Homo sapiens: one gene and its partner. The protein of the gene in region 2 purifies or fractionates together with the protein of the main gene of each other region. This does not show direct contact. Each region holds a gene or a part of one and is shown on either strand. Other genes may lie near its edges.

Region 1 (3,661 bases), on a different chromosome or scaffold from region 2:
TGTGGACCACATTATAATCAGAGAGATCTCTCAGATGTTGTCACTTTCCTGCTCTACCCGCAGATGTAAATTTCAGCCAACAGCAGTGTTTGTGCTCATTTTCCCCGGCTCTCCCACACATGTAATCCCTTCTGAGCATGTTGGCTTCAAATAATATGGCCAGCCACCTCTTCCACCACGAGATCTTCAGGAAATGGCAGGCCACTGGGTTTACATGCAGATGGCATGGGAGCACACAAGGCACGGCTGTGGGGAGTTGGCACTTGCTCCAGAATATGGAGCACCGAGTGAAGGTTTCAGTTTCCTGCACTGAGAGAAACAAGGGCATTCCGAGGCTTTTCCACTTTATCCCTAAAGAGTTTCACAACGCTTGTTTGCCGATTTCTACATAGATGCCACCTTTCTGAGTTGTATGTATTTACATGCCAAATGTATTCATTGAGCAGCGTTAAATAATGGTGTTCACCCCTAAAGTGCATATACTGGTAAAATTAAGAATGATCGTAATTAAGCCTCTTGCAATAGTCATTAGTTCAGAGAATATTTAAGAATATTAAAGGTGCTTTGCTAATGTCCTCGTTAGTTTTGTTTTGACAAAATCAGTACTTCAGTTTCTTGTTTCTTTTTTTTTTGAGACGGAGTCTTACTCTCGCTCTGTCGCCCAGACTGGAGACTGGAGTGCAGTGGCACGATCTTGGCTCACTGCAACGTCCACCTCCCAGGTTCAAGCGATTCTCCTGCCTCAGCCTCCCGAGTAGCTGGGGTTACAGGCACACACTATGCCTGGCTAATTTTTTTTTTTTTTTTGAGACGGAGTCTCGCTCTGTCACCCAGGCTGGAGTGCAGTGGCGCAATGTCGGCTCACTGCAAGCTCTGCCTCCTGGGTTCACGCCATTCTCCTGCCTCAGCCTCCCGAGTAGCTGGGACTACAGGCGCCCGCCACCACACCCAGCTAATTTTTTTGTATTTTTAGTAGAGACGGGGTTTCACCATGCTGGCCAGGCTGGTCTCGAACTCTTGACCTCAGGTAAACCACCCACCTCAGCCTCCCAAAGTTCTGGGATTACAGGCGTGAGCCACCATGCCCAGCCCAGTACTTCAGTTTCTTAGCGATGAAATCCACCCAATGTCAGGCGATGACTATTATTATTTTACTGATTTATACTGTTTGTTCTCTATTAATGTCTTATTTTCCCCAACCGATTTTGAAGTTGAGTAAGGACTATGTTCCGCGGGTATCTTGAGTCCTCTGAGGCACTGAGCTTGGTGATTTGGACGCAGGAGCTGCTCATTAGTGAGCTGATAGCTGGGAGCATAGCGCATCCCACATCACCTGACTTACCTTGGTGTCCTCCTTTGTAGCCTTTTGTCATACATGATATGGAGACACTGTGTATGGCTGAGAAGACGCTGGTGGCCAAGCTGGTGGCCAATGGCATCCAGAACAAGGAGGCGGAGGTCCGCATCTTTCACTGCTGCCAGTGCACGTCAGTGGAGACCGTCACGGAGCTCACGGAATTCGCCAAGGCCATCCCAGGCTTCGCAAACTTGGACCTGAACGATCAAGTGACATTGCTAAAATACGGAGTTTATGAGGCCATATTCGCCATGCTGTCTTCTGTGATGAACAAAGACGGGATGCTGGTAGCGTATGGAAATGGGTTTATAACTCGTGAATTCCTAAAAAGCCTAAGGAAACCGTTCTGTGATATCATGGAACCCAAGTTTGATTTTGCCATGAAGTTCAATGCACTGGAACTGGATGACAGTGATATCTCCCTTTTTGTGGCTGCTATCATTTGCTGTGGAGGTGAGTGGTTGATTTAATCTGCTGGTATCATGTCACTGACAGGCTCCTGTCTTGAAAAATTTGACAATGGGAAATCCAGTACCAGCCTGAGCTGTTCCAGTGGAGGGGACACTCACATGGTGGGAAGACGTCTGACCCCCAGTCACTGCTGAGAATTCAGTGGGAATTATAACAATATTGTATAATATTATAGTATATATTGTTATTATCTATAAATACATATTTAATATTATGTAAATGTATGACATTTTAATCATAATATTAGCCAGGTGTGGGGGTGCACACCTTTAGTCCCAGCTACTTACTCAGTAGACTGAGGCAAAAGGATCTCTTGAGCCCAGGAGTTCAGGTTGCAATGAGTTATGAATGCACCACTGCACTCTAGCCTGGGCAACAGAACAAGACCTATTTCTTTAAAAAAAAATTATATATTTTGCACAAATATATATATAGAGAAAAAGAGGTCGGACATGGGCCTGTAATCCCAGCCCTTTGGGAGGCTGAGGTGGGTGGATCACTTGAGCCCAGGAGGTTGAGACCAGCCTGGGCAACATGGCAAGACCCCGTCTCTACAAAAAAAAAAATAGAAAAAATTAGTCAAGTATGGTGGCATGTACCTGTAGTCCCAGCTACTTGAGAGGCTGAGGTGGGAGGATCACTTAAGCCCAGGAGACAAAGGTTGCAGTGAGCCAAGGTCACGCCACCACACTCCAGCCTGGGCGACGAAGAATGACCCTGTCTCAAAAAAAAAAAAAAAAAAAATTATACACACACACACACACACACATTTCGTTTATATTATATCTAATATTATAAACAGATATAATTTATATATTATGATATTCCTGTATATATTATATAATGATGTTGTATTCATATTATAGACAATATTGTATGAAGTGCTATACAGATGTCAGTATAGTTGCTGTCACAGTTGGTTATGTTGATGAAAAGTATATTTCCTAATGCAAAATATAATATCAGTCAGCAGCCAAGTGGCAGTGACTGCAAGGTTTGCTTTGCCCGAGGAAGCAGATCCCAGGGAAGGCCGATCTGGTCCTCTCTGTGGAAGCTGGCTCTGCAGCCTCCACATTTTTGGCTCGGTGTCACGTTCCTTTAAATAGCCCCATCTCAGGTCTAGGAAGGTCATCCACCTACTGCAAACTCGGCTGACCTTACCCAGGGTTGGTGGAGACAGATGGGGTCTCCCACACTGCCTGCAGCCATACTGCGCCTGGGGGATTGACTCACTGTCAGCATGGAGCTGACTCAGCCCTACCAGCCGTGCCCGTTACTGTGTGGCTGGGCACAAGTCAGATGAAGGAAGTCCTTGCGCTCTGGCATAAAGTGTACAAAGACAAAGCAGTTATGCATAATTTGTCCTTTAGTATGGTCAGGATGTAGCATTGTGGGTAAAATGCAGTTGCAGAACTATTTATATGTAGCATGATCACAGTTTTATAAAGGAAATTATAATCCTATATCAATCCTATGTATATAGAAAAATGTCCAGTGAGATATATGTTAAACCTATTATGGTGGGATTAAAATTATGAGGGGGGATTTCTATTTTTCAAAAGATTCCTCCTTTTTTTTTTTTTTGAGACAGAGTCTCCGTCTGTCACCCTGGCTGGAGTGCAGTGGCACGATCTCAGGTCACTGCAACTTCCGCCTCCTGGGTTCAAGTGATTCGCCTGCCTCAGCCTCCTGAGTAGCTGAGATTACAGGAACATGCCAGCACACCTGGCTAATTTTTGTATTTTTAGTAAAGATGGGGTTTCACCATATTGGCCAGGCTGGTCTCAAACTCCTGACCCCGGGTGACCCACCCACCTCGGCCTCCCAAAGTGC
Region 2 (3,661 bases):
ACCCTTGAAATAAAAGCTAATATTACTACCTTTTTTTTATATAATATTAAATCTTTGAGAAATTCCAAACATTTGATGCTGGTACTTTAATATTAAATCAATTCAGAGAGTATTTGCATCAGGTAGAAAAAGGTGTATCTCCTATTTTATAAGTAGAAGAGTTTTATCTTTGATTTAAAAATTGTAAATATTTCTTAAGTATGTGAAGTAATGGATATGTTAATTAGCATGTTAATCATTCCATAATATACACATAACATATATCAAAACATCACATTGTATTTCGTAAGTACAATTATTATTTGTAAATTAAAAATAAAAATTTTAAAATTGTGAGTAAGTGTAGATCATGACAGATAAGAAAGAACTCAGGAAAAAGGCCATATATCCTTCAAGATGGGGCTTTGATCTATGTTATTACATGCTCAGAGGAAAAGGAAAGAACAATGATGTAATAGAATGGGAATGAAAAAGATTCAGAGAATGTAATTACAAACATCTCATAAATTTTGACCAGTGAACAGCATCTATTAGCGTGTCCAAGAGACTTACAAAGCGAGAGGAGTTGTCATTCCTCACGGTCTTGGCGTTGCCAAAGGCCTCCAGTAGGGGGTTGGCACTGATGATTTGATCTTCCAGAGTCCCCTGCAAAGGCAAGAGCAGTCCTTGCATCTGGGGCTTGGGAATTTCCTACCTGAGAGTCCCGACAGAGTCTGGATTCTGACTGTGACAATCAGACTCACCTGTATTTTGCCAGAAGTAATTTCTTCCTTCTTCTTCTCACCAGTAACTGCAATTGTTGCAAAGTACTGGATGACACGCTTGGTGTTCACAGTCTTCCCTGCACCAGATTCTCCACTGTCAAATCAAAACTCAATCAGATGTGGTCTCAAACCTAGCAGCTATCACAGCCATGTAAAGAAAGCATAAAATCTACTTACGTGATCAGGATTGACTGATTCTCTCGGTCTACAAAAGAAATTATAGACATTTAATACTGTTTTCTTACATATTTGTAAATGATAAGTAAAGTAAAATGGAATGAACTTAGTATTATTCAGTCTGGACTTTGCAACCTTTAGGGCTTGGCAGGCTTTAGACCTACCACTTTCTCCCTCCCCAACTTTAGCACACATCCACCCATTTAAACAGAACACCACTACTTTTATTGGTTTTATATTCAAATCTTCCAAGAAATATTTCCTTCGAGGAAAAAAATTCTAAGATGAAGGAAAATGTTTGAATGCCACTCTATAAGTGATGACCACGTGGCTGTGTATTCCTGAAGCACCAGACTTTTTCTTTTTAATACTCTATCACTAAATAAACACCAAAAGTAGACTTGGCTCTTTGGTTAGGTTTAGTTGATGATTTAAGTTAGGGACATATATATTGTGGGTGCAAGGCGTAATGAAGAATGAGCATTAGAGATATTTTTAATGTGTGAAAAGGAGTAAGTACAGTAAAGGTGATAGTTTTAGAAATACGGCTTTGGTCATATTTTTAGGAAAAGGTAAAATTTTGTTTTGATGTTTTACTGTCTCTGAAGAGGAATTCTCTAAGCCCCTTCTCAAGGTGCCACAAGTAGTTTAGATTGGTCTAGCCAAGACAATATTGTAGGAAGCAGATTCAACATCTAACTGTTTTAATACCAAATACACCTTAAATCTGGAGCCTGTTCAGGTTGGTTCTGGGCAAAGGGCGATAGCATTGTGCCGTCCTTCATATAGAGAGACTGTTTAATCTGTCACAATTTAGGATGCTGAGGCTGAAACTACAGAGACAAGTTTTACTCTTCCATTTTTTGGCTCATAGTAACGGAGACACAGTTTGTATGTGTGATTGTGCGTGCATGAGTGTGTGTGTGTGTGTGTATATATACATACACAGAAATATTTGTATTTTTGCTCATATTTATTTGAGTTTCTGAGTCATTCAAAAGTATACTAACTAACCATGGCCAGCCTCTGTTGAACTTTTCAAAATTTAAGAGATCATTAGCAATTATGTAATATTACGCATTACAAATCAGCCTTTCTCCCCTTCCTGGACCTTCTCCTTCATAAATACACCAGCCTCAACTAAAAGGGACGATCTCAAGGAATGTGTTGAGATTGCCTCGAGTCTCTTTCTCCTATGGTTCTGCTCTAAAGGTTTACGCACTTGCAAAGCATTCGGCTCACTCACCAGTCAGCATGAACTGATAGGCGTTGTCAGAGATGGAGAAGATGTGGGGCGGGGCCTCCTGGCGCTTTTTGCCTCGGTAGGCTGTCACCACCTCGGGCTTATACACAGGCAGCCACTTGTAGGGGTTGACAGTGACACAGAAGAGACCTGAATAGGTCTATGAGAAGGAAAAAGAATAAGTACCCAAAGACCTTTCCTGTTATTTGTGAAATTAACTTATTAATTGAATGTTTTTTTGAGACAGGGTCTTGCTCTGTCACCCAGGCTGGAGTGCAGTGGTGCTACCTCAGCTCACTGCAGCCCCAACCTCCCGGGCTCAAGCAATCCTCCCACCTCACCCTTCCAAGTAGCTGGTACTACAGGCATGCATCACCATGCCCAGCTAATTTTGTACGTGCTTTTTGTAGAGCTAAAGTCTCACTTTGTTGCCCAGGCTGGTCTGGAAATTAATTGAATTTTAACAAAAAGGAGCACTTTAAGTGAGTACTCTTATTTCTTCAAGGCATCAGCTTGAAAACTAGTTGGCAAGTTCAACAATGTGATAGCAGAATCCTGAGGGAAGTGACTACAATTCAGCTTTCTTATTGCTCTCCTCAGGGCTTTTCACAGTGATTTTTACATAGCAGAAGAAGAAGTACATGTTATTAAACACATGTGCTATGAAACTTTTATTGTTTTATGGAAATGGTTTATATTTTCTTTGCAGCATTAAGATAATTCAAATTTATGAGAACATAAATTTGGACATAAGCTAAGTGGCCAACAGTAAGGGAATGGTTAGGTGAACTATGGTAAATCTTCTAAGACAATTTGATGCAGGCATTTAAAAAAGTAAACATGAAAGTATACAGCAACACTCAGGAAATATTTACAAAACGTTTTTAAGTTATAAGGAAACAGGACACGAAATGATATATATATATATATATATATATATATATATACATCATGATTACAATAGGGGGATTTAAAAAATCTTTGACAATTGGTTCAAGACAAGCACCAACTAGTTAAACTGGATGCTGACCATCAACTCTAGGTACACTTGTATAGGTGTTGCCTAGCTAAATAACAGCACTGGCTAAACTATGCAAAAATATGAATATAGTATAATAAATTTGATTTAAAAATATTTACTGCATGTTTATTATGTGCAGACCTTTACCAGACAGTATAAATGAGACCAGATAAATGAGATGATGTCCCTTGAGGAATCCCCAGTCTATGTAGGAGACAGTCATGTAAATGAATGATCAAGGAGAAACATGGTTAGTGTTAAGGCAGGGACAGAAAGGAAAGGACAGAACATCTCACTGCTTGGGGAAGTGGGAGAGGTTTCATCGAGGAGGTGACATTCCAGATAGAAGGGACCAGAACACACAGATACAAATTGCTGTTATTTCAGGGGATTGAAAATGAGTGAAATTTGTTTTTAAAAAAAAAAAAAATGTAGGCCAGGCATGATGGCTTATGC

Evidence for each region. The genes of interacting proteins can lie anywhere in the genome.
Region 1: the proteins of MYH2 (region 2) and PPARA purify together in Homo sapiens (co-immunoprecipitation; one large-scale study listed by IntAct). This does not show direct contact.

What each region holds. Positions count from the first base shown.
Region 1 is NC_000022.11:46,230,430-46,234,090, forward strand, and holds part of PPARA (peroxisome proliferator-activated receptor alpha), read left to right. Parts: intron 1-1,362; coding exon 1,363-1,810; intron 1,811-3,661. UniProt on the Homo sapiens protein: Ligand-activated transcription factor. Key regulator of lipid metabolism. Activated by the endogenous ligand 1-palmitoyl-2-oleoyl-sn-glycerol-3-phosphocholine (16:0/18:1-GPC). Activated by oleylethanolamide, a naturally occurring lipid that regulates satiety.
Region 2 is NC_000017.11:10,543,159-10,546,819, forward strand, and holds part of MYH2 (myosin-2), read right to left. Parts: intron 2,345-3,661; coding exon 2,188-2,344; intron 970-2,187; coding exon 942-969; intron 859-941; coding exon 744-858; intron 646-743; coding exon 553-645; intron 4-552; coding exon 1-3. UniProt on the Homo sapiens protein: Myosins are actin-based motor molecules with ATPase activity essential for muscle contraction.